Homo sapiens: one gene and its partners. The protein of the gene in region 2 purifies or fractionates together with the protein of the main gene of each other region. This does not show direct contact. Each region holds a gene or a part of one and is shown on either strand. Other genes may lie near its edges. The genes, in order: HSD17B4, CAT and ACOX1.

What was found.
Region 1: the proteins of CAT (region 2) and HSD17B4 purify together in Homo sapiens (affinity purification with mass spectrometry; 2 studies listed by BioGRID and IntAct, with this or other methods). This does not show direct contact.
Region 3: the proteins of CAT (region 2) and ACOX1 purify together in Homo sapiens (affinity purification with mass spectrometry; 2 studies listed by BioGRID and IntAct, with this or other methods). This does not show direct contact.

What each region holds. Positions count from the first base shown.
Region 1 is NC_000005.10:119,447,124-119,457,405, reverse strand, and holds the start of HSD17B4 (peroxisomal multifunctional enzyme type 2), read right to left. Parts: upstream 4,910-10,282; 5' UTR 4,831-4,909; coding exon 4,773-4,830; exon of another isoform or gene 4,653-4,772; coding exon of another isoform or gene 4,585-4,652; intron 1,092-4,584; coding exon 1,038-1,091; intron 1-1,037. UniProt on the Homo sapiens protein: Bifunctional enzyme acting on the peroxisomal fatty acid beta-oxidation pathway.
Region 2 is NC_000011.10:34,454,629-34,464,882, reverse strand, and holds part of CAT (catalase), read right to left. Parts: intron 8,873-10,254; coding exon 8,681-8,872; intron 8,219-8,680; coding exon 8,066-8,218; intron 3,633-8,065; coding exon 3,494-3,632; intron 779-3,493; coding exon 648-778; intron 1-647. UniProt on the Homo sapiens protein: Catalyzes the degradation of hydrogen peroxide (H(2)O(2)) generated by peroxisomal oxidases to water and oxygen, thereby protecting cells from the toxic effects of hydrogen peroxide.
Region 3 is NC_000017.11:75,947,824-75,958,077, forward strand, and holds part of ACOX1 (peroxisomal acyl-coenzyme A oxidase 1), read right to left. Parts: intron 9,744-10,254; coding exon 9,636-9,743; intron 8,125-9,635; coding exon 8,005-8,124; intron 7,859-8,004; coding exon 7,743-7,858; intron 5,798-7,742; coding exon 5,628-5,797; intron 3,755-5,627; coding exon 3,592-3,754; intron 3,142-3,591; coding exon 2,951-3,141; intron 2,075-2,950; coding exon 1,895-2,074; intron 1,778-1,894; coding exon 1,672-1,777; intron 1,538-1,671; coding exon 1,394-1,537; intron 635-1,393; coding exon 428-634; intron 1-427. UniProt on the Homo sapiens protein: Involved in the initial and rate-limiting step of peroxisomal beta-oxidation of straight-chain saturated and unsaturated very-long-chain fatty acids.

The DNA of each region.
Region 1 (10,282 bases), on a different chromosome or scaffold from region 2:
CTTAGGGCTTGTTTAGAAAACCTGGTTGCTTGCTTACTCTTTTGTTATATGTGTCTCCCTGAACAAACTGATGAAAATTCGTCTCTCTGTATTGCCTCGTTAAGATGTCAGAAAGCTGAAATTAGAAGATCATTGTGGGCCCACAGTTTTATCCCAGGAAATATGCTAATAAGTACTGGGTCCTACATATCCCCCTGCACTTAGCACCCATTTAGTTATTCCCCAGAAAGGCTCAGTTGTGGACAAATTCGTTTCTGTGTCCACACCAACTGTCAAGCACATTAGATCAGTCCAAACCATGCAGATTACTAAAACCTCCCACCTTTAGGATTCTTCAATACAGTATCTTCCATCTGACCCCTCCACAAACAAAAACTCATGTAACTGCCCCCTCAATTAAATTTTTTTAAAACACTTCCAGCTGAAAAGTTTTGATGAAAGAGTCAAGAAACCCATACTTTAGATTCCTTGACTCCAAACTTCCAGTTCTCAAAATTCAGTTATTTCTTACTTTTATCAATACACTTACAGGGGCTCTCTTTTGATCTCGCACCAGTAGACAAACCTCCTGTCTCAAAAAATTACAGCCTACAATTTACTGAAGTCAAGAATTTCCTTTTATACAATAAATGCTTGTCCCCACCCTTTTCTGTGAGAAACAGGGTTTTTTTTGCGCCATCACCCAGATTGGAGTGCAGTGGTATAATCATAGTTCTCTGCAGGCTCGAACTCCTGGTCTCAAGCGATCCTCCCACCTCAGCCTCCTGAGTCACTGGAGTTATAGCCACAAGCCAGCATGCCTACCCCCTAGCCCTTCGTTATCAATTCTGTTAAGCTGGGAATTCTGTGAAACTGGTTCCCTTTTAAAAGTAATTTAGACAGACAGCCTTAGTCGGGGTAAAAACCTTCTGGCAAAAGTAAAAATTAATAATAAAATTCAACCTTGACAAATTATTTGATAGAAAGACAAAGATAGCTTGTAAAGATTGTATTTCAGTTATCAGCTACAGATTAAAAAGAAAAACACACCAACTTACCAACAACTAACGCTCCTCTTTCTGCAAAAGCCAGGGCATAGGCTCGGCCCAATCCTAATCAAAAACAAAATAATCAGAAAGTTGAAGAAATGTCAGCATAATTTTTTTGGTCCGCTCAACTCAATCCCCATTTAAAGAAATTGGTGAACAATTAATTACATTTTAATGATACTCTCAACCTATCCTATCACTGACATTCTCAACCTATCCACTCTCTTCTGCTTGCAGAGGCTGGAAAGCTTAAAACTGTATTTTTCCACCTATTCTACTACCACTTCCTACCATTCTACTTAGCTGCTAGGATGCTGTGAATTGGGTTCCACCATCTGATGCATCTGCATAAAACTTAGAAGGTGTAAGTGAGACAGAGACCACCTTACTGGGAGTTCTGGCTGTTGTTGTTAAGAAGCTAGTTTTCTTGAAAGTTCCTAGGTATTCAGAAACTGACTATAGCAGCGACTTCTTCATTCAGCTCCCTAATCCCTGGATGGCAGCTTCCATACTTCAGGTCCCTAGTGCCAGTGCTACTTGGGCTGTGGCACAGCTCCAATGACAGCCTCAGAGGTATTGCCTCCTCTAATGGATCAATTTCCTATTGTTTCAGGAGTTATTCTAAGAAGACCTGCCTAAAACCTAATTGCCTGTATTGAATCCTTTGCTGCTTAAAATATCTAGTGGTTTCTGTATCCCACAGTGAACCCTGACTACACAGTCATCAAATACAGAAAATATTTAATTCTGACTCAAAGCTACAAGGTGTAAATTTATATATCCAAAAAGAAATTATATATATATATATAGAGAGAGAGAGAGAGAGAGAGAGAGAAAGTTTTGCTTTTTTTCTTTTTTTTTGAGATCCAGTCTCACTCTGTCGCCCAGGCTGGAGTGCAGTGGCATGATCTCGGCTCACTGCAACCTCCACCTCCCAGGTTCAGGTGATTGTCCTGCCTCAGCCTCGCGAGTAGCTGGGACTACAGGCGCCCGCCACCACGCCCAGCTAATTTTTGTATTTTTAGTAGAGATGGGGTTTCACCATGTTGGCCAGGATGGTCTCGATCTCTTGACCTCGTGATCAGCCCACCTCGGCCTCCCAAAGTGCTGGGATTACAGGCGTGAGCCACCACCATCCCCAGCCAAGAGAGAAGTTTTATAGGCATAGAGTATCTCGGGAAAAACACATTAGAAACTGGCAATTAGTGGTTACCTCTGGAGGACAGAACTATGTGGCTAGCAATAAGGGGTGGAAGGCTTACTTCTGGATTGTTTTTCTGTATTGTTTACATTTTTTAATATGTGTATATTTTTTACATTTTAAGTTAATTGATAAATTTCATTGACAAATGAATAAATTTAATTAACAATTTATATTTAGTATAAATTAATCAATAAGTATACAAATAACAAACTGAGATACATAAATTATTAGCCCCTTCCAAAAACAACCCAAGGCCAGGAGTAGTGACACACATCTGTAATCCCAACACTTTATGAGACAGAGGTGGGCGGATCATTTGAGGTCTGGAGTTCAAGACCAGCCTGGCCAACAGGGTGAAACCCCGTCTCTATTCAAACCACAAAAATCAGCTGGGCTTGGTGGTGTGCACCTGTACCCCCAGCTACTTGGGAGGCTGAGGTAGGAGAATTGTTTGAACCCGGAAGGCAGAGGTTGCAGTCAGCCAAGATCATGTCACTGCACTCCAGCCTCGGCAACAGAGCAAAACTCCCTCTCAAACAAAAACAAAAAGAACCAAAAATATACAGTTTTCCAAAACTAGGAAATTTCACCAAATAACTTATTTTAGAATTTAATCCAAGCAGAAGGATCACTTGAGGCCAGGAGTTTGAGACCAGCCTGGGCAACAAAGCGAGACTCCATCTCTTGAAAACATTTAAAAATTAGCTGGGCGTGGTGGCACATGCCTACAGTCCTAGCTAGTCTGGAAGCTGATGCAAAAGGATCACTTGAGCCCAGGAGTTCAAGGTTACAGTGAGCCATGATCGGGTCACTGCACTCCAGCCTGGGTACAGAGTAAAACCTTTAGCTCTGAAAAAAAAAAAAAATTTAATCAACTCTGAATGGGTAAGAGAGAATTTAACCAGTTTATGAACAGCAGGTGCTAAGTTCATAACTGTCTAGTCACAACTCATTGTTTCACAAAATCAATTTTGTGGGTTACAATTACAATTTATAAATAAAACAGAATAGAAAATAAATTTCAGGATGCATTGCCTGTACTACACACTATATCATGAACTGGTTTTAAATACAGATGTATGTGCTTGTGTAAGTGTACTGAGTACTGGTGTAAAATGTACTGCATACCATGTGTAAGTATGCTAATGGTGTCAAAAGAAGCAGTCCCTATCCTTGAATGATTTTCAGATATAGCCCCTGAAAAGGAAAGTCTCCTTAGCGATGGCAAAAACGTCTTAGAATGTAATCCCTGGACCTCCTGCATGAAAATTATCCAAGAGCTGTCAAAAAAGATTTAAAACACCAAGCGTTGTAAAATACATTATTTACAATAAAAGCAAAGTGTAAACAAAATGTTTTCCTAAAAACATTTAGAAGGTATGACTACACCCAAATACATGCCCATGCAGAGATAACCAGACAGCTATGGGTATAAAATACTTGGCTATTCATCAACACTGAAAGCATTTTCTGAAAGGCAGCATAAGAAGCCACTTTATCAATACAGATATGAAAGTACATAGGAATTAATTGACAGAATTCCAGTTTGTAACGTTTAATATATAACTCAAATAATTCATGCATTAGGGCCTTTCCAGGTATAAGGTACTACCAGTGGAGAATCAAAGGTGCATAATGTCAAGATCCCTGCACTTGGAGGTTACAGAGGTCACCCACTGGTGAGAAACTAATGTAAAATCTCACTGCACAGCATCTATGTTGGTATGAATGGTTTGTTTTAATTTTTTGTACTTTAAAAAATGGGGCTATTTCACATAACAATTTTCCATTTTGCCGCTCCTGAAATACAGGCAACTTTCCCACTGGCCGGTCCACTTCGGAATTCTCTGCTCTCCAGTTCCTCAGATGTGCCCATCCTACTCCCATTTTCTTTCTCCATCATACGCCTGACCCCTGTGCGCATTTGAGCTTACAACCTCTGCCAAGACTCCAGTGGATTTCGAGAACAGATTGTGACTTGCTAAGCATACAAACTCCAACGGGGAAGGGCTCTTATCAGACGCCCTCTTTAAAGAAGGTCCTCTCACGAACTTAAAATCTTACGACAGAGGGAAACAAACACTGAACGACCGAATGACTTTTCAGGAGCTGACATCTCTGCGCTTCAGGGGGCGAATTCCAGCCCCCGCCCCTCGCGGCTTTTCAGTCCTTTAAAAGACTAGGCAAAGATCTAAGAGAGTTAATTGCAGGAAGAGTAACAATCGATGCCCACAGATAAGGGTCAGGGAGAACTTTCACCCAGTTTTGCAATCAGCAGCCCAGCCTGGCCTCTCCTCTCAGGCAGGACCTTGGGAAGCCCACACCGGGGTGCTGGGGAGAAGCGGGCTGTACCTGCTTGAGAGACCAGGTGTTTCCGGCTCTTTCCTCCTCAAGAGATGCGGTGCCTCAAGAATAACCATTCCCCTCCCCACCACCTCAGCGGGGTGACCTCAGCTGCGGCTGCGCGCGTATGCCGGCCCGAAAAGAGCAGCCAGCTGCGCCTCAGCAAGGGGCGCGGCCTCCAACCTTCGCATGCTCACCTGCCCCCGCGCCGGTGACCAGTACCACCCGCCCGTCGAACCTCAGCGGTGAGCCCATGAATAAGGCCTGCAACGACACACACACGAACAAGCAGAGCCGCTGGACGCCGACTGCGGGACAGGAGGAGGCGGGGAATGGCGGGGGCGGGACGAGGGTCAGTGACTTGCCGATTTCTGGTAGGAAGATGAGCGCAGAGCGCGCGGCTCCCTTGGAATCCTGGGAAATGTAGTTAAGAGTGACTCCACTCGCTGGAAGACTTGCCTTCCAGGGGCCATTTCTGCGGCTGGAAGCAATGGGAGCTGCTAGGACTTGTGTAGAAGAATAGTTAACTCGACACCTTGCGTTCATCTATTCACCTGTCGTTTCATCATTCACTCAATAAACGTTTTCTGGGTTTAGTTGCTGACCTAGAGAAACAGCATGCGGCCCCTATCCTTGAGGGGCTTCCAGAGATAGCCCCTGGGAAGGAAAGTCCCCCTTAGGGATGGTAAAGATTTGTCAGTGTAATAATCCCTGCACTTCTACATGCAAACATCAGGGGACTGTCAAAATGCAGAGTCCTGGACCCCCACTGCTTACCTCCCAAAATAGAATCTCAAGGGGCAAAAACATTTTGACAAGTGTTCCTAAATGATCTTGCGTTTGTATGTTGAGAACAGTCATAGTTCAATCAACATTTACTGAGCATCTCCTGAGTTTTGATAGGATCCTCAAGCTACTCAGAGTCAGATGGTAAACTTTCAATAACGGTGCAGCCTAGACTTGTGACCAATGTGTGTAAGTGAGCTAATGGTGTCAAAATAAACAGACCCTATCCCCGCTGGGGAGAAAGAGGAAAAACTTTCTGAAGGAGGACCAGGACCTAAAGTGGCGACCCCTGCAAAGAAAGAAGGGCATTACAGGCAGCACAAACACTAGCTAGGTTTGGGGAGAAAGAGGGTAAAGCCACAAAAGCAAAGCCAGCAAGATCATGTTTAGATGTTTGAATTTTGTGCTGAAAACGGTTTTAAGTAGGATTACTCCAGAGAGTGGTGGGAACACATTTACACTATGGAAAGATCACTTTGCCCATTATGGAGGATTGATTGGATGTTGCGGGAAGTCATGGACCCCAAACAGAGGGACCTGCTAGAGCCGCAGCAGAGGAACATAAATTGTGAAGATTTCACGGACATTTATCAGTTCCCAAATAATACTTTTATAATTTCTTATGCCTGTCTTTACTTTAATCTCTTAATCCTGTTATCTTCGTAAGCTGAAGGTGTACGTCACCTCAGGACCACTGTGATAATTGTGTTAACTGTACAAATTGATTGTAAAACATGTGTGTTTGAACAATATGAAATCAGTGCACCTTGAAAAAGAACAGAATAACAGCAATTTTTAGGGAACAAGGGAAGTCAACCATATGGGCTGACTGCCTGCGGGGTTGGGCAAAAACAGCCATATTTTTCTTCTTGCAGAGAGCCTATAAACGGACGTGCAAGTAGGGAAGATATCACTAAATTCTTTTCCTAGCAAGGAATATTAATATTAATACCCTGGTAAAGGAATGCATTCCTGGGGGGAGGTCTATAAACGGCTGCTCTGTCTTATGTGGTTGAGATAAGGACTGAGATATGCCCTGGTCTCCTGCAGTACCCTCAGGCTTACTACGGTGGGGAAAAACCCGGCCCTGGTAAATTTGTGGTCAGACCAGTTGTCTGCTCTCGAACCCTGTTTCTGTTGTTTAAGATGTTTATCAAGATAATACATGCACTGCTGAACATAGACCCTTATCAGTAGCTCTGCTTTTGCCCTTTGTCTTGTGATCTTTGTTGGACCCTTATTAGTAGTTCTGCTTTTGCCCTTTGTCCTGTTCCCTCAGAAGCATATGATCTTTGTTCTGCTTTTTGCCCTTTGAAGCATGTGATGTTTGTACCTACTCTCTGTTCTTACACCCCCTTCCCTTTTGCAACCCTTAATAAAAAACTTGCTGGTTTGAGGCTCAGGTGGGCATCACGGTCCTACTGATATGTGATGTCACCCCCGGCAGCCCAGCTGTAAAATTCCTCCCTTTGTACTCTTTCTCTATTTCTCAGCTGACTGACACTTATGGAAAATAGAAAGAACCTATGTTGAAATATTGGGGGCAGGTTCCCCCAATAATTAGAGGTGGGCAAGGAGAACATAGAAAAGATTTGGGGGAAATTATGGAAACCAGAAGTAAGGCAGAGGAAATGTTGAAGAAGAAATGTTGAGATAAACTGTATTTGCAAATGGAACTGACAGGGATAGAAGGCAGGGAAATTCTGGGCAGAAGAGGGCAGGTCCCCAGTGAGGGCTCCAACCTCAAGCCTGAAAACACAGCCCAAAGTGAGAACATGCATCCCTGTTTTCCCTCTTGAATGTTGCCTTTTCCAAAACCACCTATGGTCCCCCTGCCCCCCATCCTGTGCCCATAAAAACCCCAGGCTCCAATGGCAGAGAGGAGAGGAGAGAAGAAACAGCTCGACTTCAGAGGTATGGCTTAATGGCGTTGCTCCTGGGGAAGATCACCTTCTCACTCCATCCCCTTTTCAGCTCCCCTTCCCATTGACAGCCACTCTCATCGGCAATAAAATCCTCTGCATTCACCATTATTCAATTTGTTCCTGTGACCTGATTTTTCCTGGATGCCAAACAAGAGCTCAGGTGCCACAGGTGTGACACTAAAGGCTGTCACACTGACCCTCTGCCCTCACTGGCAGAGAGCAAGTGCCTCACACCAAAAAACAGAGGGCCTACTGAGCTGTTTAACATTTAAGCCATCAGTGGATGGCAAAGTTAAAAGAGCACTGTAACACACACCCTCTGGGGCTTCAGGGGCCTTAGGTACCCCTCTAGACACTGCCAAGGGCCACATAGAGTTTTGCTCCTGCATGCACTGGCCCCAGCTCCTGCACCCACTCACCTGTGCTCCCCGTTCCTGTGGAACGCAGTGGGACCCAGTGAATGGAGTCCACCCCTGCCAGACCCAAAGCGGCCAGCTAGTTCTAGATCCTATGTGCTCCAGTTCCTGCCCCCACCCATGAAGGGGTCAGGAAAATTTCCTGCTTCAGAACTAGTCTTTTTGATTAATTAGATGTAGATATGAGAAAAGAGCAACTGAAATAATCCTATATTTTGATTTGAAAATCTAGATTACGATGGGCCATTCATCAAAATAAATAGTGGAGAAAGAGTGGCTTTGGAGGGGTTATGGCTTCAATTTTAGACAAACTGCATCTGTGAAGGGGAAGCAAAACTATGGCTAGAGACACCTAGCAGACAGCTATGGTTCCAGAGCTCTGACAGCTTGGTTTCTGTTATAAATAAAGTTTTGGTGCCACAGAAGAAATAGCACTCGAATATAAAATTTTTTTTTCTTCTCAGCAACGCAGTTTACTTCTATAGAAGGTTGCACTCTCACAGATGGAGCAATGGTGAGCGCACACCCGGACAAGGGAGGGGAAGGGGTCCTTATTCCTGATGCATGTGGCCCCTGCTGCTGTGTCATTCCCCTATTGCCTAGGGTTAGTCCACACAGGTTAAACTAATTCCAGTTGGCTAATTTAAAGAGAGTGACAGGGTGAGTGGTTTGGCAGGAAAAATGGTTATGACAGAGAGGACATCGGAATGAGCCAGGGTAGAGAATGAGCAGGTAATCAGAATGAGACAGGGTGGAGCAGGTAATCGGAAAAGGTTGCTTTACGAGGAAGTTAAGTTTCAAAGTAGAAGGCAAAGAATTGAATACACTGACATACTGATTCTTTTAAAAGAAATTTAGAACTCATATCTAACAACTCCTCCTCTTGCATTTCCTTACAGCTCTTTCTCTTCAAACTTCTTTAACATGTCTTGGCTTAGTTGTTCTGCTTGATTTTCCAAAAGAATAAGCTTCTCTGGATAAGGTGGAGGATAGTTAAGGGAGGATTTAGTAAGTGCCATTTCTATGAGCCTCTGCACCAACCCACAGATGTATGGTATGATACAGCACCCAACAAGAGTAAGTACACCCATTACGGCTGCAAGGGAAGTTAAGAATTGAGGCTATTATTCCTTTCCATTTACCAAACCACTTTTCTAGGCATCCTGTAAAGGGCCCATTTACCCTTAGTTGCTGGCTAACTCACTGGACAGAGCAGTCAGACCTTGCAATGCCTTTGTTATACTTCCATTAGGGGCGGTATTGTTTGGGATGAAGGTACAACACTGAGTTTTAATCATGATGCAAACTCCTCCTCTTTCTGCTAATATCATGTCTCAGGCTATCCTATTTTCCCAAGCCATCTGGCTAGTAGCCCCTAATTGCTCAGCTATTCTTTTAACAGCATCTCTAGGGTAGTTAATAAATCGCTGTTGGTTGCAATAAATGTAGTTTATCAAACCTACATTTTTATTAATTGTAACTTACCAAAATACTGGCTGAAATCCTGCAGCTATTTGATTTTGGGCTTTAAATTGATCTGGTATTCCCAGTGGGACTCCAATTGCGTCTAAATAGACATGAGAGTTGAAAGACCCATAAGGGGCCTCTTTCACTTTACGATGTCTTATTTTTCCTTCCTCCAGTTGATGAAATGCCAGAGTAAAAGAGATAACCAATTGAATTAGACCATAAGTACTGCTCTAATTATTTGGCAGAGTGTCCAGTAAAGGTCCTCCCTAATACCACCATACAACCAGTCAGGGATGAATAAGGGCAGACTGTTGGGTCAGCTCTTGGAAGTGCCTGACTTCCCTGCATCCTGTTAAGTCTCCAGGGAATGCCAAATTTTTCCCCTTGTCATTGGAGACATGAGGTAAAATTGGCTTTGGAAGATGGAGGCTGGATGGCCCTTGGGGGCTGACCCACAGCGTGTTGAACTTCAGGAAATAGCAGAGAAAGAGCTTGGCACAATTTGTTATTCCAGGCGGTAGAATCTTGAAAAAGAGCTACCATGCACTCCATGTCCAGTTGATTTGAGGACCATCCCAGTGGAAAGGGAACAACCTGGGCCTCTGGCCTACTGTGCACACAACAGTAACAGTCGCTTTTGTTTCAAGTGCGAACGGAATATTTAATCCATTTTAACCAGGGATTTACATCTTTTTACTCTGTTTCAATGGCTATGGTTTGCCTTAGGTCTTCTATTTCTACTACTGAGACCTTGCTTTTGTCATTTGGCATGAGGCGAGGCATAGTTTGATTTCATAGGTTTGGGAAAGGGGCAGTTGTAGGAGGTGGAGGAGGGAGAACAAACCACATCTTAAAGAAACCTATAGGATCCTTTCCAGTGACCTCTACTCCTAAACCATAAAAATGCTCAAAAGTGGGGTTAGAGTTGCTAGTGGTAGGAATAGTAATGGCTATAGGCACTGGATTCAGAAAGGAAAGGAAAAGATAGATAGACTACACTTTTCTTAGCTTTAGTTTGGTAGGGCTTGATCCAGGAACAATGGCCCATGATTCTGATGATAACGGCGCTTACTTGACTCGGGTGTGATGTGTCCAACCCCCTTCCGCGGT
Region 2 (10,254 bases):
ATGTTGAGAGAAGGAGTAAAAGGTGGTCCAAAAAAAAAAAGTAATAATGGAGAAAGACGCCATAAAGGAGAGTTTTCCATTGTTGTGGAAGAGCCACAACCATGATAAAACAGAAGCTCTGACGCAGATAGGAGAAAACAGGAAGCTGTGGTAAAAATAATCAATTAGCATTGGCAAGCAGAAGCAGACAGATGGAGAATAAGCCACGTGAAGGACGAGCCCTGCAGTGGAAACGCCCACACTCTTGTGGCCGAGGCTCCTGGAGCTATTTTGGATCTCTAGTTCTAGTCCTTGAACCTGGACTGTCCTGCCCAGATTCTTAGATTTGTCTCCACGTAAGCTGTACATGCTCATTTCTTAAATTCCCATGAGATAACTGTTTCCCCAATGCCCCCTCCCCATATCCCTTCAATAAAGTTTGAAGAAACTGAGACGGAGTCTGCATGCTTTGAGGCAAAAGACCAGAGTAATATAACCCTTCAACTCCACCCAGTAAGGGGCCCAATTTACTATTACAGATGAGTCTTCCTTGAATTCAATTTAAGATACATCAGACAGTTGGGGCATTTGCAGGGAGGGGGATTATGCAGGCATTGACAAGGAGAATTAGCAGGTGACTTCCATAGCAGATAAAGAGAAGTCATTACCTGAGTAACGTTATCATCATTGGCAGTGTTGAATCTCCGCACTTCTCCAGAATATTGGATGCTGTGCTCCAGGGCAGAAGGCTGTTGTTCCGGAGCACCAAAGCTGTTGGGGTAGTAATTTGGAGCACCACCTTCAAAACAAAACCACCCAGATGCACTTAGGAATAAGAAAAGTCAAGTAAGTCTGCAAATAATCACTGTGATGAGAAATAAATTCAAGTGGTAATCAAATACACACGTACACATACACAGATATAAACACAACGCACACATATTATTTTTAATTTCCCGCATTTAGCTACAGGTAGTATGAAGATTCTTAGGGAACGCTGCCATCTGCTAAATGCTTGCACAGGCTGCCGCACTTTATGAATGAATCTCAAAGTCCCTTTTGACACTTCAAAGGGTCTCATCTATCAAGTCTTCTGAGGGGTACAGCACATGTAGAAGTTTATACAGGCTTGATTTGGCCACCATATAGGGATGAGGCTCAAAGACACATTTCAAAATTGACTTGAAAAATTGTGTCATTTGGACTTGGGCTCAATTCAAACACTGCATCACAAAATTCTTGAGGGAAATCTGAAAGTTCTGGTTCTGCTCCTTGAATCTACAGACACAAGCATGGAGCTCTGTGATGGGACCTGACTGCTGCAAGGTCACACGGTAGCCAGTGGTAGATATGGGGTTGGAACTCTGGGTTTTTTGTCTCCTCCAGCCCAGCATATACAGTATTTCCATTACAGAACTCTACTTTGCTATTCCGTAAAGTGTTTTTAGGATTCTCAGGGTATCTCTCCTTTACTGACAATGATGACTTTGTTCCATTGTAGCTTCACTTTCATACCCTCCACAGACCAATAAACAAAGAATTTTTTAAAATGTGGTAATTGTATATCAGCACTTACTTATCTGGACTTATAAGAAACAGTGACAAATACAATCAAAATATTTTCTATGACTTTTGAAATAAATTATAAGGCTTTTTTTTCGTTTTAGCATATTTATTTTCTCAACTATGCTTTGGCTGACATTAGCAGAAGCTTTCATTACCCGAGCACACACTGCCTAAACAGGAGTGGCCCAGAAACATATTAAGTGGTTTGAGCAAACCAATCTGGGGTTGGAATTTTAGCCAGCTCACTGCCGTAATAGATTATCCACAGTGGATAATCAAGAGGTGCCTATGTATGACATTCATCAAGACACCAAGTGTGTGTGTAGGGGAAGGAAGAACACCATACTATTATAGAGCCCAATTATTCACTCAACAAATTCAACAGATCAGTCACATCTACATGAAAAGCAAAATGCTCCAAAAACCAGCCATCACAGTGTTTTCTTCATTAAGAACTAGCTCTTTGAAATGTGCCTAGTTAATTTTTAAAATCCTACTTCCAAATGAGCCCTGACCTTTACTCAAAGTGGTAGTTGTCTTTAAAGCACTGACCACAGGAACAATTAAGCTCTTTCACTGAGCTTCAGGGTCACAGCCCAAATGCTCTACTTTTACAATCAAGCCAGGCGCGGTGGCTCATGCCTGTAATCTCAGCACTTTGGGGGGCCAAAGTGGGTGGGTCACCTGAGGTCAAGAGTTCAGGACCAGCCTGGCCAATGAAACCCTGTCTCTACTAAAAATACAAAAATTAGCTGGCGTGGTGGCACACTCCTATACTTCCAGCTACTCGGGAGGCTGAGGCATGAGAATCTCTTGAACCCAGAGGCAGAGGCTGCAGTGAGCCAAGATCATGCACTGCACTCCAGCCTGGGCAACAGAGTGAGACTCTGTCTAAAAAATAAATAAATAGATAAATAAATATAGCAAAATGTAATAGCTATGACCTTTGGGTGTTGGGACTATATGGGAATTTTTCTTTTTTCTTCTTTTTCCTATATATTCCAAATTTTCTTTAGGACACTTGTATTATTTTTATCATAGAAAAATAAACTTTGTTTGAATATAGACATCTGTGGCTATAAATATAAATCATCAGTAAAATTTCTAAAGGGATCAATGCATGCAGTCTATATTACTAAAACACGTGTCCTAAATGGGAAAAGAAAATAACTAAGATCTATATTAAACTGTGGAATAGTAAAAGGAAAAAACTTTAATCAAGCATTCTGCTTGACTTATTAGAAAAAGTAATTAGAACCAGAGGCTGTTTGTATACGACACCAAAAAAAAAGTAGTTAAAAGAAAAAGATCCTAAGTTTGATAAATGAGTTCCAAAAAACAAAAAGTGGTAAGTTGATTCACCTAACTTTATTCACTTAGGAAAAAATGAAGGGAGGGGAATCCTTTGACTTGCTCTGCCTCCCCTACTCTCTTCTCCCCAGCCTTCCCTGCTAATTCTAGCTCCCCTCCAAATTCTAGCTAGACCTGCTCCTCCAGGGCCACAGCAGAACTGCAAAGAGAAACAGAAGACTCCAACTCTTGGCTTTCGCACTTCCAAGGGTCTAAGTCTTGGTGATTTCACAGTGAGTTAAGGAATTGTCCATTTTGGTGAAGTGTCTTCAAAACCTAACTCCCAAGCTGGATGTTACTGTACTCTAGCCAGTGTGAAAGATCTTTCTCCCTGCTTTTAACTACTGGATACAAGTAACATCTGAGGTGGAAATGCTCAATAAAATATATAAAATAGATAAAAAGCATGGAGAGTCCTCAGGCAGCCTAAATCTTCACTGCTGGGCAAAAAAGCGCCCAGTTAGCAGCACCTGGGGAGCACCTTTACCAAGCAGGAGGTCCTGCGGGGCCAGCTTGAGAGCCACTGGCCTGGCCTCCCGCCCATCTGCTCCACGTGCCCTCTGCCCACGCAGGGGGAGCCCAACGTCTTTAGGCCTACCCTGATTGTCCTGCATGCACATCGGGCCGTCACGCTGGTAGTTGGCCACTCGAGCACGGTAGGGACAGTTCACAGGTATATGAAGATAATTGGGTCCCAGGCGATGGCGGTGAGTGTCAGGATAGGCAAAAAGGCGGCCCTGCAGTAATAAATACAATAGACACTGACTAGGGGCAGTAACATATAACATAGGAATGGGCTGTAAACTTCATTCTGAAATTTGAAGTACAAAGCACTCTGTACATGGTTACCACAAAATTCTGCCTTTCCCGCTACTTAAGAGTGAAGCCTCTACTCTTATGAAACGAGTTCTCCCTAACTGAACAGTTCTGAATTTCCCAGGCCCTCTGGCCAACCATAAATCTTCACATCTGTTTTTGGTAATAATATCTTTTTTTTTTCCTTCTGCATAACAAGTTAGTGTCTTGTCTTATACAGTATTACTTCCTATTCCCAAGGAAGTATTGCATTATAAAATAAATGTGCTAGAACGTTAACTAACTGAAATATTGAATTAATTCTATTCCTCCTCATTCCCCCACTCCAGGGAAGGAACCAATCATTTGCTCTTTACAAAAAGCAACACATTTCTACAAAACCAACAGCATGGGAAATTCTTCAAATAAGCACTTCCAACTGGGCACAGTGGCCCATGCCTATTATAATCCCAGCACTCTGGAAGGCCAAGGTGAGAGGATCGCTTGGGCCCAGGAGTTTGAGACCAGCCTGGGCAACACAGCGAGACCTGTCTCTACAAAAAAAAAAATTAAAACATTAGCCGAGCATGGTGGCATGTGCCTGTAGTCCCAGCTACTCCAACAGGCTGAAGTGGGAGGACTGCTTGGCCCAGGGGATTGAGGCAGCAGTGAGCTGCAATCGTGTCACTGCAATCCAGCCTGGGCAACAAAGCAAGATCAGAAAAAAAAAAAAAAAAAAAAAAAAAGTACCGCCCACTCCCATGCTGCCTTCTGAATTATCTCAGAAACACTTTGAGCTCTGAGACTTTCTAGATATAAACAACAATAACAAAAAATCTGTGGTTCAAAATGAAAGCCCTACAATGCCAAAGGTAATCAATCTAAGATTAAATTATGTTCCATGTTAATCAAGGCAAAGATGGCAAGCATCTTGAAATTTCTTTCAGTTAATGCTCAAACAAAAGCTTTATGATAAATTCTGCATTAATCTTAATATCTAATTATTGAACTATTCTCATTATTCATACTCCTTTTCTATGAGCAATTTTTCTTCCATTGAATTTATCATTGGCCTTGAACCTTAAAAGTATTTTTATATCCCTAATTCTATGAGGCAAAATAAAAACCAAATTGAATAGGGCAACTTAAGCAATAACTTTGTTCCAAATCACTGATACCAACAGACTTAATCCAGTCCCAGTGTTCTGTCAATATTTTGCTTTTGGCTGAATGACTCCCTCTTATCATCATTTCAAATAGCCTAAGGTCATATTTAGATGACTAGCCATGCGGCCATGACCAAAACTCAGCTATAGGTTGGAAGCTGGTTGTCTCCTTTGGCTCAAAAAGTTGTGCTCTTGACTCCATCAACAGGATAGGAGATACAATCCTGCCATGGGCAGCTCCTGGATGTAGCCTCTATCACCTAATTCTGATTTTGTGTCACCCTGTGTTTATCAGGCAACCTTACCCCACCTATGGGTGGAGACCAACAAAGGTTGGGAAATGGGCACAGTGAGGCCATACCCTGACACCAGCTTGAATCTAGGCCTTCCCCAAGGCCCTGTGCCTGAACTCCCTTGCTGGACCTGCGTGAGTGGGAAAGCCTTTCCCACCCAAGCAACCGGCCCAACTTCTCCAACTCTTGGCAAAATGCAGAGAATGAGAGCAAGAAAGGCTGCACCTGTGTCCTCAGGTACTCAGGGGACAGGACAGTCTCTCTATGACTTGTATTATATTATTTGTCCATTTCACCATGGTGTGGCTCACCACTTTGGATAAAGTTATAAAACTTAATAACATGACCTTGTTAAAAGGCACCTGTAAACACTGCCCATTAATATATCAACCGCCACTGCCTAGGCTACAATACTCATGAGCTCTCAGCAGGAATAACCCCAAAGCCCCCCTAACTGGCTTTCCACTTCCTGTCCAACAAGACAATCTACATATTCCCTACTCACCTACTCAAAAAATCTCAAATCATTCCTTAATGGTCACCAAATGGCTAAATGAGTACAACAGTCCTTCCCCAACTGTATGGCTCCTCACAGGCTCCATGGTATTGGAACTGATAGCTAAATGACCTAAGAAGGATGGGGGAAAGCTAGGCTAGAAACAATAACTCGACAAACTTATGAAAGCTCTTTCGAACAGTTTCTAAAACTCATTTAAAAAAAAAACAACCTATAAAGAGTACACTGAATTTAAAATAGATATATTTGCCAGAACTAAAATTAATACTAACAGAAATTATATTACTTTCTACTTGTCATCCTTTTTCAGAACTCTCTTCCCCACTGTTTGAATAGCTGCCTTAGACATTTGCTTTCTTAGGAATGTAGAGAATACGTATTTGCTTTGCAGTCCTTTTCCCGGGGGCCTAGTTCTCCATTCAAATCTTCATTGTTCTTCAAATTATATGACTCAGTGCTGCTGACTGCCTCACGGTCCCACTGTGGTTCCAGAGACCCATGGTGACTTGGATTCTTGTGAAAAGAGTTTAGGTAACCTTGTATTCCTCAATCCGTTCCCTCCCTGGGTAACCAGGGTTATGCAGCCTCTGCTCTGCCCATGACAATTTCATGCCTTGGCAAATCCCATTAGCCTCATCCTCTCACAGTTCAGCCACCAGGTAGGGAGTTTTAGGGCCCAGGATTACCTTGTTTTGGCTTCCTCTACTCCCTGGTTTCAATGCAAACTTCTGCTTTTCCTCTGAGAACTGCCTGACTTTCCTTTTGCTATTCCCAATCCCTAGTTGTCGCTTTTTCTATTTATCACCAAGAGGAGTGATTCTACTCAATATATCCCAGACCACACTTCTCAAAACTGAAGAAAGCTTTTCACTCCTACTCAAGCATTTAAGGTCCCCTCTGACATATACTCAATGAACCTACCCAAACTCTATTCTTCTCATTCAGGAGAGAGTGACTGTTTATAGTTTCAACACACCTAACATGTCCCACCTTTGTGCCTATACTCATGTCCTTCTCCTGCCGCATTTTACCTACTAAAAATCAAAATCCTATCTATTCTTCAAAACAATCTCAAATGCTACCTCGTTCATGAAACTTCGTGGCTGACCTCCTATCAGACAAAATTTTGCTTTCTGGATCACCATGGCATTCTGCCTTACATTATGGCACCCAAGACAGTCCACCATACACAACAGACAGGTACTCAATTTGTAACAGTTGAATTGGACTAAAAACTAATGAAAAACTTACTTTCTATAAAAGCCTCAGATGTTCCCCAATGTCATAAGCAAAAAAGTTATTTTTTAAAAACGGAATCTTAGCTTGTCCTCCATGCAGACTGAAACCTGAACTGGAATCAGATACTTACATAAGAAGTAACCTTCAGTCGCTGTGGTCTGATTTAGGGTACAATCTTTAACCTTTGTTTCAAGGTCACAGTCTAAAACCACAAAAGATTGATTTATACAGTAATTATTAAGCCAATTATTTTCTTACTGATTCTGATCCAAAGTACAATTTTTCACTCTTGGTACTCTTGAAAGAGATATTAAAAAGTGATGTAAAACATACTGATGGCTTAACATTAGCAAGGTGAATGGTTAATCCACTGCTTTTATCACTGGCAGCATACATGTAGTTCATAAAGATCATCCCTAGATCTCTTTTTACAAATGGAAAAATTCAAGCATCACCATGAAACAGAAAATGAGGCCAGCCACGGTGGCTCACGCCTATAATCCAGCACTTTGGGAGGCGGAGGCAGGCAGATCACTTGAGGTCAGGAGTTTGAGACCAGCCTGGCCAACAGGGTGAAACCCCGTCTCTACTAAAAATACAAAAATTAGCTGGGCATGGTGGCGGGCGCCTGTAGCTAATCAAGAGGCTGAGGCAGGAGGATCGCTTGAACCTGGGAGGCGGAGGTTGCAGTGAGCCGAGATCATGCCACTGCACTCCAGCCTGGGCGACAGAGCAAGACTCTGTCACAAAAAAAAAAAAAAAAAAAAAAAAAAGAACAAGAAAATAAAGTTAGGCTTACCAAGGTATTATAATTAATTAACCATACTTCAGCTACAGACAGAACAAACCATGCTTCACTCTATCAATACTTAAGGTATTTCTATTATGTCTTTTTTTTTTAATTAAGAGAGTAAGTATTCTTGTCTTCACATATGTAGGGATCTTACCATGGACTTTTGTTTATACTTGGTTTACTCAAGGAATGCTCATTGAAGAATAGTTCACCTCAGTGAATCCCACAAGGTAACCAAGCACCCAGATTAAAGTTTAAGTAATGTTCTTGTTAATTCCTCACATAAAGATCATGCCAAGCTGCATATTTTGTGTGTGCATGCTCACATGGACACCTGCCTCAGAACATCTCAATCCACCAGGCTCACCTGAAGCATTTTGTCAGGACTGGCCTCAATGCCAGGTGGCATGTTGCTTGGGTCGAAGGCTATCTGTTCAACCTCAGCAAAGTAATTAACTGGATTCCGGTTTAAGACCAGTTTACCAACTGGGATGAGAGGGTAGTCCTTGTGAGGCCAAACCTGAAAATGATGTCATATTCACAATTACCAGGCAATCAACTGAAGGAAATCAAAGCTACCCACAAAAATACCAGATTTCAAATACAATCAAGCCAATGAAAATAATTTTTAAATCCAATAAAACATAAGAATTTAAGATGAGTGCCTTAGTTAAATCTTTCACAATAGTAAGTGGTAAATACTGACAGTTTCCCCAGGAAAAAGTACATCAGCTTTTCATAATCTGTTCCCTGTTAATAACAATATATGAAGCCACATACACATACTCAATGAAATGACAAACAGGAACGTGGAAGTAAGATGCTGGTAAGCACTCATTCACAGCTTAGGACACTCTGAAGTGGTACCCTCTGTATTTTGTATATGACTTCCCCATTATTATAATTGTTTGACTAGATTTTTTTTCTAATTAGGTAAGAAGAGACTTAAAAAAGAAAACAATATAGTTGTTTACTGACTCACCTTGGTGAGATCGAATGGATTAAATGGAAAAGTTTCTGCCTGATTAAATGTCATGACCTGGATGTAAAAAGTCCAGGAGGGGTACTTTCCTGTGGCAATGGCGTTAAAAAGATCCCGGATGCCATAGTCAGGATCTTCCTGGGAAAGTCTCGCCGCATCTTCAACAGAAAGGTTTTTGATGCCCTGGTCAGTCTACAAAATGAAAGAAAGAAGCTCCAATGGAAACTTATTGTCAAAGTTATCAAAATTTCATCAGTAATTCATTGAAGGATTATGAGTAACACTGCCCAAAGAATGAACTTTCTTTACAACAATACTTCTATTGTTCAAATCTGATACTAATGAATTTATCAACAAGAAATTCTACTTGATTATCCCAATACTTTTAAATGTCAAGGGAATCCCATCTACACATTTCATATTTAAAATCAGTCCTATCTTTCCCTTTATGTATTCTATTATTTGAATTTTTACACTCATGTTACTTTCCAAATCAGAAAAATCAAAATATACTTAAAAGTAGGCAAAAGATTAATAAAATTAAAGGACTACTTGCCTTTTATCATGAAGTAATGTTTTAATTCCATTTCATGACAGCTCAAATCAATTACTGAGACTGTGCTCGGCCAGTATCCCTTCACCCCTGTCCTATTCCTTTTTTTTTTTTTTTTAATAAATCATAGAATCATAGCTCATAGAGTTGAAAAGAACTTCAGTACAGCCACCTGGAACTAGTTCTCTGACTATGAGCAGGCAAAATTAATATTCTGACTTTCCAAGCAAGACATTAAAACCCAGAGAAGCTGTGTCACTTCATAAGTGCTCCTGTTATCATATCATACTGTTCTTTGATGGACTGACCATGTGATCTTATTCTCAAAGACCTCCCAACAAGCCAAGTGCCGCAGAAAGATTTCCTTAGCAAAAATCAACTCTGAACGCTGGTCTATTTCTACCACAGAAATCCCAACTGTCTCATCAGTGAAAAGGTTTGAACTCTTACTACTGAACAAGAAGTAAAGCCACCTTCAGGATTAAAACAATGAAGGTCACCATGTACAGATCGCCCAAAGAGCTAATATATTAAGTAGTACAATAACACTGCAATACCTTTCTGATTTTAACTGAATCCTTTAGGTTTAGAAAAGAATAATCTTAGGTCAGAATAATCCAGACTGATGAATCCATGTAGATCTCAGGCTACCTTAGGGCCCTAGGATAAAAGACCCACAAGCAATCCAATCTTTCCAGGACTTGTATAGCTGGTAATATTATGCCAACTTCACAGTGAAAAGAACTGGAGCTCAAAGAACTTTTAATACTATGCCCAAGGCCACAATTATCTAGGAGAGTAGAAATTTGAGTTCAGGCTGGCATAACTCCAAGGCTACCAACTAGACTGGCTGTCCTAGATACAACCACTTAGTCTTATTCTAAGTAATACTACATTGACCCTTTTGGCAATTACAAGCCAATGGGTCAACTGTTTCATAAAATTTTTCCTTGTCAAATATTATAGATCCAAGTTATGAATATAAAAAGAGGTGATAGTTTTCCTGTTTGATATACCTACA
Region 3 (10,254 bases), on a different chromosome or scaffold from region 2:
GAGGCAGGAGAATTCCCGAGTAGCTGGGACTACAGCCGTGCACCATTACTGCCTGGCTGCTTTTTTTGTATTTTTAGTAGAGATTGGGTTTCGCCATTTTAGCCAGGCTAGTCTCGAACTCCTGACCTCAGGTGATCTGCCCACTCGGCCTCCCACAGTGCTGGGATTACAGGTGTGAGCCAACGCACCCGGCCTGTATATATTTTTAAATGTTCAATTCGTTATCAAAAATTGAAATTGATTAAGACCCTGGTTACTGTGGGAACAACCCAGTTCCCTTCTGAACCTGTTGCTCAAATAAAGTGACTGTCAGAAGTGGCCATGGTACTTTCAGAGCTTTCACAGATAAATCCCCTTCGAGAGGCCTTTCCTGCTTCAATATTTAAGTGAAGACTTTTAAAAAGGTGCAGAGACACTGGATTTTTACCTCTGCTTTGTTCAGTGGGGAGTTCTTAGCCCACTCAAACAAGTTTTCATACACATTCCCATCATAGCGGCCAAGCACAGAGCCAAGTGTCACATCCTGAAAATCAAATGCATCAACCAAAGCAACAGCATCTGAGCGAATCAGAGTGAGTAACTCCTTTACACGCTGGTTTACTTGTGTAATCTGAGGCTCTGTCATGATGCTCCCCTAAAAGAGACCAAAATAAGTAAATAAAACATATATATGTATATAGATAGACATAATTATATGCATATACAGCTATAAAGCGGATGACAATTATTTTTTTCTTTTTTTTTTTTTGAGACTGAGTTTCACTCTTGTTGCCCAGGCTGGAGTACAATGGTGTGATCTTGGCTCACCGCAATCTCCGCCTCCCAGGTTCAAGCAATTCTCCTCCCTTGGCCTCCCAAATAGCTGGAATTACAGGCATGCGCCAGCACACCTGGCTAATTTTGTATTTTTAGTAGAGATGGGGTTTCTCCATGTTGGTCAGGCTGGTCTCGAACTCCCGACCTCAGGTGATCTGCCCGCCTTGGCCAAAGTGTTGGGATTACAGGCATGAGCCACTGTGCCTGGCTATTTTTCTTTTTCTTTTTTTTTTTTTTTGAGACAGAGTATTGCTCTGTCACCCAGGCTGGAATGCAGTGGTTTCATCTTGGCTCACTGCAACCTCTGCCTCCAGGGTTCAAATGATTCTCGTGCCTCAGCCTCCCTAGTAGCTGGGATTACAGGCATGTGCCACTGCACCTGGCTAATTTTTGTATTTTTAGTAGAGACAGGGTTTCACCAGGCCAGGCTGGTCTTGAACTCCTGACCTCAAGTGATCACCGTACCCGCCTTGGGCTCCCAAAGTGCTGGGATTACAGGCATGAGCCACCGTGCCCAGCCAACAATTATTTTTCTTAAAACAACAACAAAAAAGACTTATACTTAGAAAATACTGACCTGAAGGAAATCCCCCGCGTTCTGACTGATTCCATACAGAGAATACAGCAGACATAAACTCCTTAAGACAGCTTGAATGGCTTTATCTTGAATTTTGAGGAGTTTTTCTGAAAAGAGCTTAACTACCACATAGTGGCAATGTGCCTAAGATTAAAAAGAAAACACCAGAGTTTGAGAACCTTGGAAAAAGATTCAATATACAGTGACTAGGGTTTCTGTACCAGAAAATGCGGGATGCTGAGGGCAGGGAAGGGGAAAAAGAGAGAACTACCACTGACCTCACTTGCTCGAACAAGGTCAACAGAAGTTAGGTTCCAAGCTACCTCCTTGCTTTTTCTGTGAATCACTTCTTTTTGAAGGTTTTTTGCAGCAATTTCTACTAATCTGTTAAGACATAGATTGGAGGTCTGAGGAAATGATCAACAGTACTCATGCCTTCTTGCCATCTGTCAGGGCCCCAGCCCCACTGCTGCGTATTCTAGCTCTTGAGGGAGAGCTCACCTGGCTGCACGGAGTTTATATGCTTCGGTTAGGCTTTCGGGGCTGTTGATATCCACCATGGTTGGCCAGACTGCTACCTGCTGTGGCTGGATGCGCTGACTGGGCAGGTCGTTCAAATAGGACACCATGCCACACACCAACTTTCCTGAGTGCACCTGATCATAACTTTTCATCAGGAACCTAAAAGTCACCAGTAAACATGCTTTTAGTAACTCTACTTTCTTTTGTTTCTTTTGAGATGGAGTTTCATTCTTGTTGCCTAGGCTGGATGGAGTGCAATGGCCAGATCTCAGCTCACTGCAACCTCCTCCTCTTGGGTTCAAATGAATGATTCTCCTGCCTCAGCCTCCCAAGTAGCTGGGACTACAGGCACCTGCCACCATTCCTGGCTAATTTTTAATATTTTGTTTTTTTAGTAGAGACAGGGTTTTACCATGTTGGCCAGGCTGGTCTCTTAACTCCTGACCTCAAGTGATCTACCCGGCTTGGCGTCCCAAAGTGCTGGGATTACAGGAGTAAGCCACCACACCTGGCCTTTTTTTTTTTGATGGAGTTTTCGCTCTTGTTGCCCAGGATGGAGTGCAATAGCGCAATCTTGGCTCACTGCAACCTCCGCTTCCCAGGTTCAAGCGATTCTTCTGCCTCAGCCTCCCAAGTAGGCCGGGATTACAGGCAATGTGCCATCATGCCCGGCTAATTTTTTTGTATTTTTTTAGTAGAGACACGGTTTCACCATGTTGATCAAGCTGGTCTTGAACTCCTTACCTCATGATCTGCCCACCTCAGCTTCCCAAAGTGCTGGGATTACAGTCATGAGCCACTGTGCCCAGCCCAGTAACTCTATCCTTGATACAACTGCAAGCTATGTAACAGGTGCTTCATACTCTCTAGCCTCACCACGAAATAAAAACCGTGAGTCAGGATGGAAGGCAAAAGTATACCTTTCAGGAACAAATATATATATACGGTGAAGAAAAACCATGGGAACAAGAACCTAGGAAAAGGACTAGAACATTCTTATGAACAGATGGGAGGAATCGAGGATTTGACTCTCACCTAGCCGTCTGGAGCATCATGACAGTGTTTTCTCCCTCAAAGGTACAGCTTGGGGTGAAATTGACATAAATATTTGGAAGACCACTGCAATGAGAATAGCCATGCCCACCACAAGCCATCCGACATGCTTCAATGCCAGTGTTTGCAGTCCAGGAGGTGAAAGCCTTCAGTCCAGCGGTGAGGGCATGAAGCTGAGAGGACAAGCACAGATCTGTCAGGACATCTGTGGTGCTGAGAGCCCGAGAACCAATGAGAAAACACACCCCTCCTCTAACATCTTGGCCACTGTCAAAACACAGCTGCCACACATGCAAACTGAAGAAGCACAGCTGTCCGACTGGCCAGAAGAATACAGAACACTACCCATGCCCATCTAAGCTGTTCTACTTGGCTAAACATTCACCACTTACATTTCCTTGATTGACAAATAATCAACATGGTACAGTATTTCTGATAACACTAAAAATACTGAACAACAAACCCCACAGATCTTCATATCTGATCTACTTTCAACCAGAAGAAGTTCTCAGAATACATACTTCTTTTCAGGAAATACCAACATTTAGTTATCTCTGGACCTCATCCAACAGGCAACCACGAAACAGAAGGGTGCCCATGAGTGAATGAGACCAAACTCATACCTCAGGCAGTTCACTCAGGTCCCCTTGACCAATGCCTTCGTTAATCCGGTGATAGGTCTCCTTCATGTATGCGCCCACAAACTGGAAGGCATAGGCAGTGGCCAGGAGTGGAAAGAGTTTATACTGCTGGGTTTGAAAATCCAAAATCTGTGGTTCTGGTTCACTACGTGACATAGAAAAAGAAAAAAAGTAGTAAGTAAATGTTTATACAGAACTTTCTATATGCCAGGTTCTAATCTAAGCACTTGGTATTTTAACTTATTTAGTCCTCTTAAGGGCACTGTGAGGTAGTTACTATTACTATCTCCATTTTACAAATGGGAAACTGAGAGGTTAAGAATCTGCCTGAGGTCACACAGCTCGTATGTGGCAGGTCTTAGATTTAAATTGAGGCTTTTTTTTTTTTTTTTTTTTTTTTGTGATGGAGTCTCCCTCTGTCACCCAGGCTTTAGTGCAGTGGTGCGATCTTGGCTCACTGCAAGCTCCGCCTCCCAAGTTCAAGCGATTCTCTTGCCTCAGCCTCCCACAGTGGTGGGATTACAGGCATGAGCCACGGTGCCTAGGCTATTTGGCTCCCTAAGACCATGCTGTAATTACCTTGTACTGCGTAGGCTGACAGAATTTTCTGGCTGCAAAGTCCATATCTGTCCTAGTCTTTCCAGTATGACTAAGAAAACCGTAGCTCATAGCAACATACAAAACCAACGCTAGTCAACCTAATAAGAAGGCAATGCCAAAAAGCTCTACTCACCAGATGGCTGAATACATTGTATTTTGACCACAATCTTGGAGAAGACCCAATGGATGGTGTTAAATATTTTGAAGTGTAAGAATTAGCAAGGGTCTCATTGTATCAATTCCTTTATTCCTTTTTAAAAATGTAATTATTATTATTATTTTTTGAGATGAAGTCTCTAACACCCAGGATGGAGTGCAGTGTTGTGATTTCGGCTCACTACAACCTCCACTTCCTGGGTTCAAGTGATTCTCCTGCCTCAGTCTCCCGAGTAGCTGGAATTACAGGCACCCGCCACCACACCCAGCTAATTTTTGTATTTTAGTAGACGTGGGGTTTCTCCATGTTGGCCAGGCTGGTCTTGAACTCCTGACTTCAAGTGATCCACCCGCTTTGGCCTCCCAAAGTGCTGAGATTACAGGCGTGAGCCACTGCGCCTGGCCTTAAAATTTAATTAACTTTTAATTTTTTTGAAAATAGACCAGCCTGGCCAACATGGCGAAATTCCGTCTCTACTAAAAATACAAAAATTAGCTGGGCATGGTGGCGTGCACCTGTAATCCCAGCTACTCAGGAGGCTGAGACAGGAGAATCACTTGAACCCAGGGTGGCAGAGACTGCAGCAAGCTGAGATCGCGCCACTGCACTCCAGTCTGGGCAACAGAGTGAGAATCCATCTCAAAAAAAAAAAAAAAAGAAAAGAAAATAGAGACAGGGTCTCACTATGTTGCTCAAGTTGGCCTCAAACTCCTAGGCTCAAGTAATCTTCTTGCCTTAGCCTCCCAAAGTGCTGGGATTACAGGTGTCAGCTACCACACCTGGCCAGTTTCTTTATTCCTTAGGAGTAAAAAGAGTATCAGGGAGTATCAGTGAAAGGCAGTTGTAGGAATAAACTGTGGCTATGAATGCAAAAGGGAAACAAATTTAATGTCACTTTCACCATGCACAATTTACAGTTGCTAGTAGTAATCAGAACTTTCAAACTGCCTTTAGTGTGTTGAACATTTCACTTATAAAGTTCAAGTAATATTATTACTATTTTTCTTAAAAAGTTAAAAATAATAAGGTGGGTATTCTCTTTTTTTCTTTTTTGGCAGTCACTGATTATAGCAAGGGTGGTTATTTCTGTCTTTCCTCTTAAGAAAAGGAAGCCTAGATATGAAATTACAGGCCCAGTTATCACCCTAGCCAATTTTGCAGTGCTAATGCATCTTCTGTATTGACATTTGGGAATTCTGGGATCTGAATGGGGTAAAAACTAGGCCTTTGGTACTGAGCCCATCTAGGACCCTATCCTTACCCTGGCTTGATTTCAGACTGGTGCCTCACAGCGCTGTATCGGATGGCAATGGTGCACGCCTTAGACAGAGCCCGAGCAGCTTCTCCCACAAGGAAGGACCTGACAAACACCATGGTCCCGTAAGTCAGCTTGTTACTCAGCGGTTTCACGTATGTGCCATCAGGCTTCACCTGGAAGAAGAACGTGGAACTGATACTTCCTTCTTTTAAGCCCAAGAGGCAGTTCAGTGGTTCTCAAAGTGTGGTCCCTGGAATAGCAGCATCAGCATCACCTGGCAACTTGCATGAAATACTACATCTTAGTCCCCACCCTGACCAACTGAATCAGAAACTCCAGGGTAGGGCCTAGCAACCTGGGCTTTAACTGGCCTTCCAGGTGATTCTAACGCATGCAAAAGTTTGAGAATCATTGGTTTAGCAAATCAAAATATGTCCTTCAACCCTGACAACTGTTTCTGATTTCACTGTCGCAGTAAAAGAAGCATCAGAGTGGGCGTGATGGCTCACGCCTGTAATCCCAGCACTTTGGGAGGCCAAGGCAGACAGATCAAGAGGTCAGGAATTCGAGACCAGCCTGACCAACATGGTGAAACCCCATCTCTACTAAAAATACAAAAATTAGCTGCGTGTGGTGGCACGTGCCTGTAATCCCAGCTACTCAGGAGCTGAGACAGGAGAATCGCTTGAACCTGGGAGGCGGAGGTTTCAGTGAGCTGAGATTGCGCCACTGCACTCCAGCCTGGGTGACAGAGCAAGACTCTGTCTCAAAAAAAAAAAAAAACCAAAAAATGCTGGGTGCGGTGGCTCATGCCTGTAATCCTAGCACTTTGGGAGGCCGAGGCAAGAGGGTCCCCTGAGGTCAGGAGTTTGAGACCAGCCTGGCCAACAGGGTGAAACCCCACCTCTACTAAAAATACAAAACAATTAGCTGGGTGTGGTGGCGCATGCCTGTAATCCCAGCTACTTGGGAGGCTGAGGCAGGAGAATCGCTTGAACCCAGGAGGCGGAGGTTGCAGTGAGCCAAGATCACGCCACTGCACTCCAGCATGGGTGACAGAGACTCTCTCTCTCAAAAAAAAAAAAAAGGGGCATCAGAAGGAAAAATGCATTATTAGCTCCTTTTTTTTTTTTTTTTTTTTTGAGACAGAGTCTCGCTGTATTGCCTAGGCTGGAGTGCAGTGGTGTGATCTCGACTTACTGCAACCTCTGCCTCCTGGGTTCAAGCGATTCTCCTGCCTCAGCCTCCTGAGTAGCTGAGATTACAGGCGTGTGCCATCACACCCGGCTAATCTTTGTATTTTTAGTAGAGACAGGTTTTCACCATATTGGTCAGGCTGGTCTTGAATTCCTGACCTTATGATCCATCCTCCTTGGCCTCCCAAAGTGCTGGGACTACAGGCATGAGCCACCGCGCCCAGCCTTATTCCCTCCTTTTATGAGACGGAGTCTCACTCTGTTGCCAAGCTGGAGTGCAGTGTCATGATCTCTGCTCACTGCAACCTCCGCCTCCCGGGTTCAAGCTATTCTCCTGCCTCAGCCTCCTGAGTAGCTGGGACTACAGGTGCGCACCACCACGCCCAGCTAATTTTTTGGTATTTTTAGTAGAGATGGGGTTTCACCATGTTGGCCAGGATGGTCTCCATCTCTTGACCTCATGATCTTCCCGCCTCAGCCTCCCAAAAGTGCTGGAATTACAGGTGTGAGCCACTGCGCCCAGCCTCCTTTTTTTTTTTGAGACAAGGTCTCACTGTCATCTAGGCTGGAGTACGGTGGCATAATCACAGCTCACTGTAGCCTCGGCCTCCCAGGCTCAAGTGATCCTCCCACCCCAGTCTCCCAAGTAGCTGGGACTACACACGTGTGCCACCATACCCAGCTAGATTTTTTTACTTTTTGTAGAGATGGGTTCTCACTATGTTGCCCAGACTGATCTTGAGCTCCTGGGCTCAAGTCATCCACGCACTCAGCCTCCCAAAGTGCTGGGATAACAGGAATATGCCAGTGTGCCCTGCTGTTATTACCTTCTAAAAGAACAGACCATTCTAACCCTATTGTGAGTAACAGCCACTCAACTCCACTGTTTGATGCCTCTGCTTTATTTTCTATCAAAACATACCTGGGCATACTTCATCAGCATGTTTTCTCTGGGAATACGATGGTTGTCCATTTTGAGGTAGCCATTGTCTATCTCATCATAACCAAATTTGGGGCCGATGTCACCAACGGTAATTCCTACCACAGATGAAAGGACAGTCACGAGATGTTTATGCTCTGGAATTTCTGGCTTTTGCTCCGCCTCTTCAGTTGGGCATTCTACCTTTTGCAGAAGAAAGTGCTCAGTTTCATTTTCATCTCAACATCAGATGAACAGTTCTTACCTGGCAAAGGCTTATGGGTCCCGATTTCACGAATAGGTACGATAAAGGCATGTAATCCATAGCATTTCCCCTTAGTGATGAGCTGGGCAAGAACTATTGCATGATTTGAAGTCTTTCCAACTGTAATATCAAAGAGAACAAGGGAGGGGTGGGCAAACGTTCATACATTTTTAAAGGGTAGAAAAAAGAAGAAAGAATATGTTAAATCTAACACTAGACTAAACCAATAGTATGTGTCCAGAAAGCCTTTCTGCTGACAGCATCACACCTAGCTTTCAGAAAGAAATTCCCTTAAGCTAATAGTTATTACTTTCTTTTCTACTTATTTCTCATACATTTACGTAGAGAAAATTTTAGGATAAAAATAAGAATATTAATTTAAACTACTTCCTTGTTATCCCTTAAGGCAGTGCTGTCCAAAACAGTAATCACTAGCTACATGTGGCTTCTTACATATAAATTATAAATAAATAAAATATATAATGTGAATAACAAAATCCTTCAACCACTAACTGTATTGGAAATATATATTCCAAGATAATAACTCAGAATGGAATAAGAAGATATAAAAGTTTCGGGTCAGCCGGGCACGGTGGCTCGCGCCTGTAATTCCAGCACTTTGGGAGGCCGAGGCGGGCAGACCAGAGGTCAGGAGTTTGAGACCAGCCTGGCCAACATGATGAAATCCCATCTCTACTAAAAATACAAAAATTAGTTGGGTGTGGTGGCACGCTCCTGTAGTCCCAGCTACTCAGGAGGCTGAGGCAGGAGAATCGCTTGAACCCAGAAGGTGGAGGTTGCAGTGAGCGGAGATCACACCACTGTACTCCAACCTGGGTGACACAGTGAGACTCCATCTCAAAAAAAAAAAAAAGTTTGTGTTAAAACTATTTAAATTTTTTTCTTTTTTTTTTTTAAGAGACAGGGTTTCACTCTGTCACCCAGGCTGGAGTGCAGTGGCATGATCACAGATAGTAGCTCACTGCAGGCTTGAACTCTTGGGCTCAAGTGGTCCTCCCACCTCAGCCTCCTGAGTAGCCAGGACTATAGGTCTATAGGTATGTGCCGCTATGCCTGGCTTTCCTCTCTCTCTCTCTCTCTCTCTCTCTCTCTCTCTCTCTCTCTCTCTCTCTCTCTCTCTCTCTATATATATATATATATATATATATATATATATATATACACACACACACCTCTCTCTGTCTATATACACACACACACACCCCTCTATGTACACACACCACACACACATATATTTGTTTGTTGGGTTGTTTTTGAGACAAAGTCTTGCTGTGATGCCCAGGCTGGAGTGCAATGGTGCAATCTTGGCTCATTGCAACCTTCCCGGGTTCAAGTGATTCTCCTGCCTCAGCCTCCCAAGTAGCTGGGACTACAGGTGTGCGCCACCACACCCGGCTAATTTTTGTATTTTTAGTAGAGATGGGGTTTCAGCATATTAACCAGGCTGGTCTTGAATTCCTGACCTCAAGTGATCTGCCCACCTCAGCCTCCCAAAGTGTTAGGATTTCACCACCAAGTCTGGCCGACATTATCATAAAAGCTCTACATTCTAAGCAAAATCTCATGACAAACCTTCAAAACATCCAATAAATGCTGAAAAATTCACTTACGCCCACCAGGCCACCATTTAATGGAGGTCACAGTAGGACTGTTGAGAATGAACTCCTGGGTTTCAGGGTCATACGTGGCTGTGGTTTCCAAGCCTCGAAGGTGAGTTCCTAAGGAGATAAATTACATTGACTTCAGTTAAGAGATGGGGAAAAAAATAGGCACAAGGAAAAATTTCCTGCACAGTCCTTTAAACTCTCATATCTCAGAGAAAAACAAAATCTAACAAAAAACACCTGTAGATGAGCTACAACTGGTTGATAACCAAGACACTGAATTTCCCACACTATCTGATGGTTTCCTATTAAGTTGAAAATCTAAGTGTCATGCATGTTCCATTTCTGTATTTGATTTGTTACATTTATTTACAGCAACTGAAAGAAAATATAAAGGCAACTTAGAATCACATTTTTAAGATCACAATATATGAATTTAACAGGGATGTTAACTGTCTTTTTAAACCCATCTCTGAGTTGCAAGTATGCCAATTTCAAGTCATATGTATTGTGTTAACCACACCAATTCAACATTCTTGAATTCTGTACTAATGAGAAGAATGAGATAACATGTGAGAGGAAGACATTTCAGCCAAAATTCGTATAAATTAAAAATGTATGGCTG